Linked DNA regions of Homo sapiens: region 2 is linked to region 1. Evidence: fine-mapped expression QTL. A gene starts in region 1. The other region holds a variant in brackets. All regions are shown on one strand. Distances are from middle to middle.

Region 1 (5,376 bases):
ACGGTGTTTCTGCCTTTGTCCACACACATACACACACACAGTGGCACAGTGTGTGTGTGTGTGTGTGTCCCAAGTGTGTGCAGTGTTTGTGTTTCTGGTTGAGACTGGATGTTTTTATCTTTGGGCTGTCTCCATGAGATGAGGGGGCACCTGAGTGTGTCTCCTGGGTGCACTGCTGTCTGCAAATGAGAACATCTGTGGGCATTTGTGTGTTCTGGGCACAGTTCCTTGGGCCTGTGAGTGGGTCCGGTTGTGTGTGTGTAACAGTGTGGATGAGTGTGTGTGTGGATGCGTGACTGCATGTGAGTGTGTGTGTGCACATGAATGCTATAGTCAATATGTGTGTGCATGTGTGTGTAGATGTGAATGGAATGTACGTGTGTGTGTGTATGGGAGTATAAACGTGTATGTGACGGTGCATGCATGAGTGTGTAAGCATATATATATAAGTGCAGTGTGTGCTTGTATATGGGAGTAAATGCTTATACATGTGTATGTGTGTGTTGTGAGTCACTGTGCGCAATGTGCGTGTGCATATGTGTGATTGTGTATGTGTAAGTGGGTATATCCATGTGAGTGTATGCATGTGTCTATATGCGTGTGTTGTATGTGGGTGTGAGTGCATAGCGGGAGTAGTAAATGGGTATGTGTGTGTGCATATGTGAGTGTGTAATGAGAGTAGGTGGGCGTGTGTGTGTACCTGTGCATATGTGTGTGTGCATGTGTGTAATGAAAGTAAGTGGGCGTGTCTGAGTGTGTGCATGTGAGTGTGCATGTGAGTGTGTAATGGGAGTAAGTGGGTGTGTCTGAGTGTGCCTGTGCATATGTGTGTGCATGTGAGTGTGTTGGAATAAGTGGGCGTGTCTGGGTGTGCCTGTGCATATGTGTGTGCATGTGAGTGTGTAATGGGAGTAAGTGGACGTGTGTGTGTGCTGTGCATATGCCAGTGAGTGTGTGCGTGTGGCTGTGTGCCTCCCCCGGGCCAGTGTCCCTGAGGCCCTGGCTGTGTCTGCAGCTGTACCCACGGTGGTCGCGTCCCTGCAGGGGTCCCCCTTGCCCTCCTCGGCTGTGGGGCTCTGCCCGCGCATCCCTGCCACCCTGACCCTGACCCCCGACCGTGGGGGCGGAGTGAGGCTCCCCCAAACCCGTGCCTCTGGCGGTGACTGGGGCCGCGGATCCCCGCGTGCGGCTTCGGGAGGTCTCCGGGCCAGAGCGGGCGTGAGTCTGGGCCGAGGCCGGAGCCGGTGGAGCGGCGTTGTTGGAGGTGGCCGTTGTGTAACCGCGAGGCTGTGGGCGAGGGGACGGCGGTCCCCGTGTGTGGGGAGAGGGGGCGGCGAGGAGCAGGCGGGGAAGAGCTGCTCAGGGCTGTGCCAGCCGTGACCCAAATAGCTCAGAACACAGCACTCATCCCCTCCGCGCTTTTCTGGGACCCCCTCCACGCCCCCTGAGCTCTCCAATCCCAGCCCCCTTCTCCCAGGAGCAACCCAAGACGGAGCCCAGGGGCTCAGGCCCCATCAGCAGGGCCAGGACCCGTCCTGGGGCCACATCGGGACTCCCAGCACCCCCACCCGTCCCCAGCTCAGCCAAGCCTTTCTCCTCATTAATCTCGAAGTCAAGGACTTGAATTAAACTGGGTCAGGGGACAGCTCTTTCGCCCATTGGAGCTGCCCCGAGCCGGGCCCCTTCCCCAGGGACACCGGCTTCTGTGAGGTTCCCACACCGGCCCCACCCTCGGGACCCGGGTCTGTCATCCCGAGGCTCCCCAAACCCAGCCTCATCTCGGCCCTCACCCCTGCAGCGCCCTGACCACCCCTTCTTTCTTGGGACGGGCAAGAAGCTTCCTCTCCCAGAGCCCCTTCATTTTCCAGCCCTGGTCCTCAGCCCCTGAAGCCCCCTTCCCCATTTCAGACTCTCAATCCCATCCCAGCACCGCAGCAGCCAGCGTTTTCCCCGCCACCGTTATCAGGTCCGCTGTCTCCTGGGTCCCACCTTATCTGGGACATATTCACCTGCTCTGATCCTGTGGGGCAGGGTCATCTTTTAGGGCAGGAAGAGTAGACCTACCCTCCCGATGACCCTGGAGGCCGGCTTCCCAGGCAGGTATCAGACACCCGGGAATCCGGGCCCCCCTCCCCTCCTCTCCATGAACTCAGGGGTGCAGGTCCCCAGCCTTCCCTTATTTAGAGAGCTCGAGGTCTGGACCCCCAGCGCGCGTCCCAGGAGAACCTCCAGGCATGGGCGCCCCCAGGCTCCTCCTCCCTCCGAAACCCCAAAGTCCGGGCCGGCCCCCAGCCTCCGGCGGAGCTCAGGAAATCTGTGACCCAGCCCCCTTCTCCCTCGGGACCCAGGAGCTCCGGCCCCCAGCCCTGGCCCCCAGGCCCTGGCGCCCGGTCCCACCTGCTGGTATTCCTGCTCTTGGGGCGCGAAAACGCTGGGCACCGGGCGGAGCTGGAAGTCGGCGCGGGGCAGCTGGTGGAGGAGATGCACCCAAGCTGAGGGCCGGTAGCCCGGGGGCGCCCCCATGGCCCCCGGGGGAGGGGGCAGCGGGGCGGACGCCGGGGCTGCGGGAGCCTCCGGAGTCGAGCGGGGCGCGGGCGGCGCGGGGTCTGGCTGGGCTCAGGGGAGCGGGAGCGGGGGGGAGGCAGGGGGTGGGGGGCGGAGATTGGGGGGAGGGAGGCGCGGGCCGGGCGGGGACGGTGCTGCCCCTGGTGGTCGCGGCGGGGACTGCGGGAGTCGGGAGGCCCCCAGCGCTCCGCGCCCCACCCCGGTCGCGGCTCCCACCTGCTGCCCGCGCAGGTACCGCGCTGCTGGCGTCGGCGGCATCCGGACAGCTGGCTTGCATCGCGATTGAAATCAGCCCTCCTTGTCCATACGAGGCCACTCATACTGTTATTTCACCTAAAACATAATGATCCCTTTATCCTTATGGAGAAACTTCATGTCTGTGTAAAGGTTGCTAGTAAGTACAGAGCGTTTTACAAAGAACGGCCAATTCCATGGATAAGAAGTCCTCTGTGTACGAAAGTGCTCCCACCTGTAAAAGATGCCCGTATTTGTGTAAAATCTCCGTCCCACTTTTATTCCTAGCCTGCATAAGGACACAGCTTCTAAGCACAAACACTCCTATGTGTAGAGGCTACTCCAGAATGTATGGAAAAATCCACACGCCTGTGTAGCAAGCCTTCATGCTGCATAAGGACCCCTTCTACCTGCATAAGGACCCTGGTCATCTATATAGGGGCCCTTCCCATCCTGTAAACTGACTCGGGATTACTTCGGTGTATACAAGGACCCCTGCCCCTTGGCATTCGCCATACAGTTACAGAGTATTTTTCCAGCCACTCCCCATGTTACATCTCACTGGAATCCTCCGATGCCACACCGATAGATGGGGAAGTGCCAACCCTGGGAGGGGACCTGGCCACCCTGACATCATCACCCAGACTGTCACTATTGCAGCCAAAACTAGGTGCTCAGGAATCTGGCCCCAGGGGTCCCCTCTTGCTGTAGGGCAGGGTGAGACTTTGCCATCTGGAAACCACACACGTGGCCTCTCTTGTGGGAATTGGGATGAGTGGAAGAAAGGGAGATTAGTTCTCCACTTAACCCATTTCCATATTTTGCTCCAGATTGGCAAGAAAGGGCTAGGGAAAAGAGGAATGCTGGTGGTAGCGGAGGTGGTGGTGATGACGATGATGGTGGTGATTATGTTGGTGATATGATGTCATGATGATGGTGATGGTGGTGATGGTGATGATGATGGTGGTGGTGGTGTTGATGATGGTGATGGTGATGATGATGATGATGGTGAAGACATGATTATGTTGACATGTCATGATGATAATTATGATGATGATGGTGGTGGTGATGGTGGTGACGGTGGTGATGATGGTGATGGTGGTGATGATGTTGGTGATGGTGATGGTGGTGGCGATGGTGGTGGTGGTGATGGTGGTGATGGTGGTGGTGATGATGGTGGTGATGGTGATGATGTTGGTGATGGTGGTGGTGGTGGTGATGGTGGTGGTGATGTTGGTGATGGTGGTGATGATGTTGGTGATGGTGGTGGTGGTGATGGTGGTGATGATGTTGGTGATGGTGATGGTGGTGATGGTGGTGATGATGCTGGTGATGGTGGTGATGATGTTGGTGATGGTGATGGTGGTGATGGTGGTGATGATGTTGGTGATGGTGGTGATGGTGGTGATGATGTTGGTGATGGTGGTGGTGATGGTGGTGATGATGTTGGTGATGGTGGTGGTGATGGTGGTGATGGTGATGTGGTGATGGTGGTGGTGGTGATGGTGGTGATGGTGGTGATGATGCTGGTGATGGTGGTGATGGTGGTGATGATGTTGGTGATGGTGATGGTGGTGACGGTGGTGATGGTGGTGGTGGTGGTGATGGTGGTGGTGGTGGTGATGGTGATGGTGAAGATGAGGATATGATGATGATGATAGTGATGATGATGATGGTGGTGAAGACAAGATTATGTTGACATGTCATGATGATAATGATGATGATGATGGTGGTGATGATGGTGATGAGGACGATGATGATGACGGTGAGGAGGAGGATAGTGATATTGGTGAAGGTATTGATGATGAAATGGGAGAGTGAGAATAGGCGCCTTATCTCTGTCTCTCTCTCTCTCTCTCACACACACACACACACACACACACACACACACACACACACACCCTCTCTCATCACTACCCTAGGTCTTCTTCAGCTTTCTCTGGTTCTGGCTAGAGTCATGTTCTCCACCATTCCCAACCAGGTGGCCTACATGGGGCTTGGGGATGAAGAAGATCCCGAGATGAGCGGTTAGAGGTGTATTAAGTGACTCTAGGCAAGTAGTTTTTCATCTTAGAGTCCCTCTTTTTCTGTCTGTAAAATGAAGGCTTAACCCTTTAGGGCTAAGATTAGTATATTCTAAAACTCTTGTTCTGACAATCTCTTGCATCATGTCCACAGCCAGTGTTTGTTGTAGCAGCAGGATTTGCTAATGGGAAGAATTCCAAACGTCATGATGTGCACAGTTGGGCATGTGTACATCAGAGTGCAGGACAGTGAGGTGCTGGTGGTGACTGTGCAACCCAATAGAGCTCAGTGGCTCCACGTTGCCCATAGAATCAAGTCACACCCTCAGCCCTGAGTTTATACCCTCCATCATTTGGCCCTGCATCAGCCCTCTCCATATGGATAATATTCTAGATGAGTGGTTTCCAACTGATAGGGCCACAACCCACAGTGAGAAATACATTTTACATTATGATCTAGTATACACACACACACAAAAAAAAAAAAAAAAAAAAAAGTAAAAAGTTTCTGACCACTATGTGCAATGCTCTTGGATAATTTCTATCCTCTGTT
Region 2 (5,376 bases), 23 kb after region 1:
GTCAGGAGTTCGAGACCAGCCTAGCCAACATGGCGAAACCCCATCTCTACTAAAAACACAAAAATTAGCCAGTCACGGTGGCTCACATCTGTAATCCCAGCACTTTGGGAGGCCAAGGCCCACAGATCACAGGGTCAGGAGTTCAAGACCAGCCTGGCCAACATGGGGAAACCCATCTCTACTAAAAATACAAAAATTAACCAGGCGTGGTGGCAGGCGCCTGTAATCCCAGCTACTTGGGAGGCTGAGGCAGGAAAATCACTTGAAACCGGGAGGCGGAAGTTGCAGGGAGCTGAGATCGTGCCACTGCACTCCAGCCTGGGCGACAAGAGTGAAACTTTGCCTCAACAACAACAACAACAACAACAAAAAAAAAAAAAAAAAGAAAAGAAAAGAAAAGAAAAAGAAATGATGCCAGGCATGGTGGCTCACGCCTATAATCCCAGCACTTTGGGAGATCGAGGCGGGTGGATCATCTAAAGTCAGGAGTTCGAGACCAGCCTGACCAACATGGTGAAACCCCATCTACTAAAAATACAAAAATTAGCCGGGCGTGGGGGCAGGTGCCTATAATCCCAGCTGCTCGGGAGGCTGAGGCAGGAGAATCGCTTGAACCTGGGAGACGGAGCTTGCAGTGAGCCGAGATCACAGCCACCGCACTCCAGCCTGGGCAGCAGAGCGAGACTCTATCTCAAAAATAAATAAATAAGTAAATAAGTAAATAAATAAATAAATAAATAAATAGATAGATAGATAGAAATGAGCTCTCAAGCCATGAAAAGACACAGAGGAACCTTAAATGCATATTACCAAGTGGTAGAATCCCATCTGAAAAGGCTACGCATTGTCTGATTCCAACAATATGACATTCTGGAAAAGGCAAAGTATGGAGACAGGAAAAGATCAGAGCTGCCAGGGGTTGGGCGAAGGAAGGATGAATAGGTGGTGCACAGAGGAATTTTAGGGCAATGGCTCTCCTCTGTCTAACACTGTGACGGTGGGTGCCTGCCATTAGACATTTGCCTGAACTCATAGGATGTGCAACAGGAAGACTGAGCGAGCCCTAATATGACTTTGGGTGATTACAATGTGTCAATGCAGGCTCATCAGTTGTAATAAAAATACCGCTCTGGTAGGGAACGCTGGTAATGGGGGAAGCTATGTAGGTGTCGGCGTAGGGAGTACATGGAAAATCTCTACCTTCCCCTCATTTTACTATGAACCTGAACCTGCTCTAAAAATAGTCTTTTTAAAACATTTTTCTTCCTCTTCCTCCTCTTCCTCTTCTTCCTCTTCCTCTTCCTCTTCTTCTTCTTTCTTCTTTCTTCTTCTTATTCTTATTTTATTTTATTTTTTTTGAGACGGAGTCTCGCTCTGTCGCCCAGGCTGGGGTGCAGTGGCGCGATCTCAGCTCACTGCAAGCTCCACCTCCCGGGTTCACACCATTCTCCTGCCTCAGCCTCCCCAGTAGCTGGGACTGCAGGCGCCCGCCACCACGCCCGGCTAATTTTTCTGTGTGTTTTTAGTAGAGACGGGGTCTCCCCGTGTTAGCCAGGATGGTCTCGATCTCCTGACCTCGTGATCCATCCGCCTCGGCCTCCCAAAGTGCTGGGATTACAGGCGTGAGCCACTGCGCCCGGCTAAAAATAGTCTTTTAAAGAAAATTTCTCAACCCAAGCACTACTGTATGGAGACAGGGAGGGTCTCCAGGGATTATAGGAATTTAATCAACTTGAGCAATCAGCCTGTTTCACAGCCTTCTGCCCTGCAGCCTGTTTTTCTCCAAACCCTGTGTGGAATGCGGCCACTCGTTGGTTGGAACCAGCCTCTGACGGGCCCTGGCAACTTAGAGATGAACCCGAGTGAACTTTCTGCACTGCTGCGCTCAAGTCTCCATCCCGGGAGGAGCTGTAGTCTCGTTACCGTAACATGCGACCCGTGTGCTGGTATGACGACTCGCTGCATCTGCGTGACTGGGACCCTCCTCCACATACAACGACGCGCCCTCTCCCTGCTCCCTCACCCCATAGAGCCCTCCTGTCCCTTTTCCTCAGGGAGACACTGCTTTGAAGAATACACCCAGTGCCTTCCTTAGCTGTGTCAAGTCATAAAACTCTTCTTGATCAAAACCTCTGTATTAGTTTGTTCTCATGCTGCTAATAAAGACATACCCGAGACTGGTTCATTTACAAAGGAAAGAAGTTTAATGGGCTCATAGTTCCACTTGGCTGGGGAGGGCTAACAATCATGGCGGAAGATGAAGGAGGAGCAAAGTCACGTCTTACATGGCAGCAGGCAAGAAAGAGCGTGCAGGGGCGCTCCCATTTATAAAACCATCAGATCTCGTGAGACTTATTCACTATCACGAGAACAGAATGGGAAAAACCTGCTCCCGTGATTCAGTCGCCTCCCACAGGTCCCTCCCATGACACGTGGGGATTATTATTATTATTATTTTGAGACGGAGTCTCGCTCTGTCACCCAGGCTGGAGTGCAACGGCGTGATCTCAGCTCACTGCAACCTCCACCTCCCAGGTTCAAGTAATTCTCCTGCCTCAGCCTCCCGAGTAGCTGGGACTACAGCTGCCCGCCACCACGCTCGGCTAATTTTTTGTATTTTTAGTAGAGACGGGTTTCACTGTGTTATCCAGGATGGTCTCGATCT[T/C]CTGACCTCATGATCTGCCTGCCTCAACCTCCCAAAGTGCTTGGATTACAGGCGTGAGTCACTGCCCCCCATCGACACGTGGGGATCATTACAATACCAGGTGAGATTTGGGTGGGGACACAGAGCCAAACCACATCACCTGCATTCTCGGGAGAGTTGTTTGCTCCTCACCAGGCAAAGGAACCCTGTTTTTTTCTGGGTAACACTGTTGACTTTCGGGGCTAGGTTATTCCTTGGGGGAGGAGCTGTCCTGTGCATCCCCCGCCTCCACCCCCCACCACCCAGAAGCATCCCCCTCTCCTCTGGGTTGTGACAATCAAAAGTGTCTCCAGACTTTCCCTAGTGTCTGCATTTGGGACCCTTCTATTATTACTGCTGATTCCATGAGTACATGGTAATTACCCGCTGAGTTCCAGGGACTCCACTATAATTATCCAGCTGGTTTTGGGAGCTCCTGGTGCAATTATCCAGCTGGTTCCTGAGACTGCACCGCGATTCCTTAGCTGATTTCCATGACTCTACACACTGCCAGCGCCTGTACATAATTATACACTAGTTTCTAGAGCCTTTCTGTAATTATTCAGCCTTTTATAGAAATCTAATCATAACTACCTGGGCAATTTGTTTTGTTAAGTAGAGTGCTAATGAGTGGTCGCCAATGTTTCAGCTCCTCTTCTGAGTACCAGGGACGTGGGTAGAACTTTGATCCTATCTTATCCTTACAGGATATTGAGAGGAGAGGAGAGAAGTTGACATGGCACCACCCAGTGGAATGACATAGTCAGCACAGAGTGCAGTGGGAGCACAGAGGAAGAGTGCCAGGCCCATCGTGTCCAGCTGTGTAGGTTGTGCACTGCACAACTCTGGGGTCATATCACAAACTGTGAGTGTGAAGAGCCTTGTAAGGCTTCCAGGACAGGTTTCTAGGGGTCACCAGATGCAGTTCTAGAGCAAGGCTGAGGAATCCTGACTCCTAGAAAGAAGGGGGCAGGGAATTGCTGAGGACGTTTGAAGTCTAATGGGATGACACGTCCCCTGCTGTGACAGGCAGCTCAGGTTTCTAGTTGAAGTCTGGGAAGAAGAAGGCTCCATGAAGGCGCTTCTATTTGGAGTCATTTGTGTTACTTCCCAGCTCACTCAGGGTGATCATGGTGACCAACAGGGCTCTACACAGGACCTGTGGCCCCAACCCTCACCCCTCTGCATTCTCTTCCTGCCACTTCCCTCTTCCTACCCCTCTGTCTGCAACTGCCACACTATTCCCCCTGCTGAGCTTTGCACCCTCCAGACCCCCTGGACCACCGCTGCACTTTCTCATTTATCCAAATCACTCTCACCTTCTAGCTGACTGTGACTGTATAATGCCTGTGGGTTACTGCCCCTCTCCTTCTGCAAGAATATAAGCTCTTCCATGGAAAGGGTGTTTGTTTTCTATATTGGTGGACCTCTAGAGCCTCAAACAGTGTCTGGCACACAGGACAGGACCAACAAATACTTACTGAATGAAAAAAATGAATGCCAGATGGAAAAAATAAAAATGAACTAAGCAGGGAGTTTCTCCACTGTGGCCACAAGAGGGAGCCCAAGCTATGTGTTAAACCCTTCCAGCACTAAGGTGGGTGGTCTCTCTGCTCCTCAGCCTGGAGGACCAGGGACAGGTGTGACCTGAACCACGTCCTTTCTCCTCTGTGAGCCTCTATTTCCCCATGTGTAGCGTGGAGATGGAAATGCCTGAAAGGAGTTCCCGTAAGAAGCGGAAAAACCAACAACGCATGCACGTGAATGTCTTCCAAGGGGTTATTGCATGTGTCCAAATTCATCTGATTGTGTACATTAAGTGAGAAGGTTTTTTAGTAGAACAATTATAGCTAAACAAAGCTGCTAAAAATAAATGGAACAAAAATAAAGGAGAATTGCATTGAACAACAACATCCAAACCATTAGGCTAGCACAGGAAACTTGAAGGAGAGTAATCCAGCCCCTGATAAATCAACAGAGTAAGAAATATTAGTTACAGAAAGTGACCATAATGTTACCTTGGGATATTATTAAAGCATAAAACTAAATGGAAATTATGAAGCTGAAAAGTACAATAAATTTCTAGCAAGAGCCGGATGTGGTGGCTCATGCCTGTAATCCCAGCATTTTGGGAGACTGAGGGGAGTGGATCACCTGAGGTCAGGGGTTTGAGACCAGCCTGGCCAACATGGTGAAACCCCGTCTCTACTAAAAATACAAAAACTTAGCCAGGCATGGTGGTGCATGCCTGTAATCCCAGCTACTCAGGAGGCTGAGGCAGGAGAATTGCTTGAACTCGGGAGGTGGAGGTTGCAGTGAGCCGAGATTGCGCCATTGCACTCCAGCCTGGGCAACAAGAGCGAAACTCTGTCTCAACAATAACAACAACAGCAGCAACAACAACAAAAATCCTAGCACGATGAAGACATATTCACTAAAATCAATCATATGTCTATATACTGACAAAAATAATTCAATAATGAAATTAGGAGAGCAATTTTATTTACAAAGCCTCAAAAATAATAAAATGAATAGAAACCAATTTAATAAAGAAATGCAAGATGTGTACACTAAGAACTACAAAAGATTGCTGAGGGAAATTAAAGATCTAAATAAAGAGAGAAACACTTCATACATTCACAATGGCATGCAAAATAATAAGAAATAAAATTGGGCCAGGTGCAGTGGCTCAC

Direction of the effects. Positions count from the first base shown, and alleles are read on the strand shown. Sizes are in standard deviations (SD) of each study's normalised expression.
For the expression in subcutaneous fat of the gene that starts at base 2,612 in region 1, C is the low allele of the variant in region 2 and T is the other (large effect, 0.78 SD a copy in FUSION).

The links. PIP is the estimated chance that this variant, and not a neighbour inherited with it, causes the effect.
Region 2: its variant is fine-mapped to the expression of TTYH1 in subcutaneous fat (FUSION, PIP 0.95).

What each region holds. Positions count from the first base shown.
Region 1 is chr19:54,412,700-54,418,075 of GRCh38, reverse strand. It overlaps TTYH1 (tweety family member 1), which reads right to left and starts at 2,612. Exons shown (of 14, transcript NM_020659.4): 1 at 2,398-2,612. The coding sequence starts at 2,523. LOC124904770 (LIM domain-containing protein A-like) reads right to left here and starts at 974. Exons shown (of 1, transcript XM_047439797.1): 1 at 1-974. The coding sequence starts at 940.
Region 2 is chr19:54,390,045-54,395,420 of GRCh38, reverse strand. No RefSeq gene overlaps it. Among named protein-coding and RNA genes, the nearest start is that of TTYH1, 23 kb to the left of the region's middle. RefSeq lists an enhancer at 3,425-3,972. The variant T/C (reference allele first, on the strand shown) is at 2,666.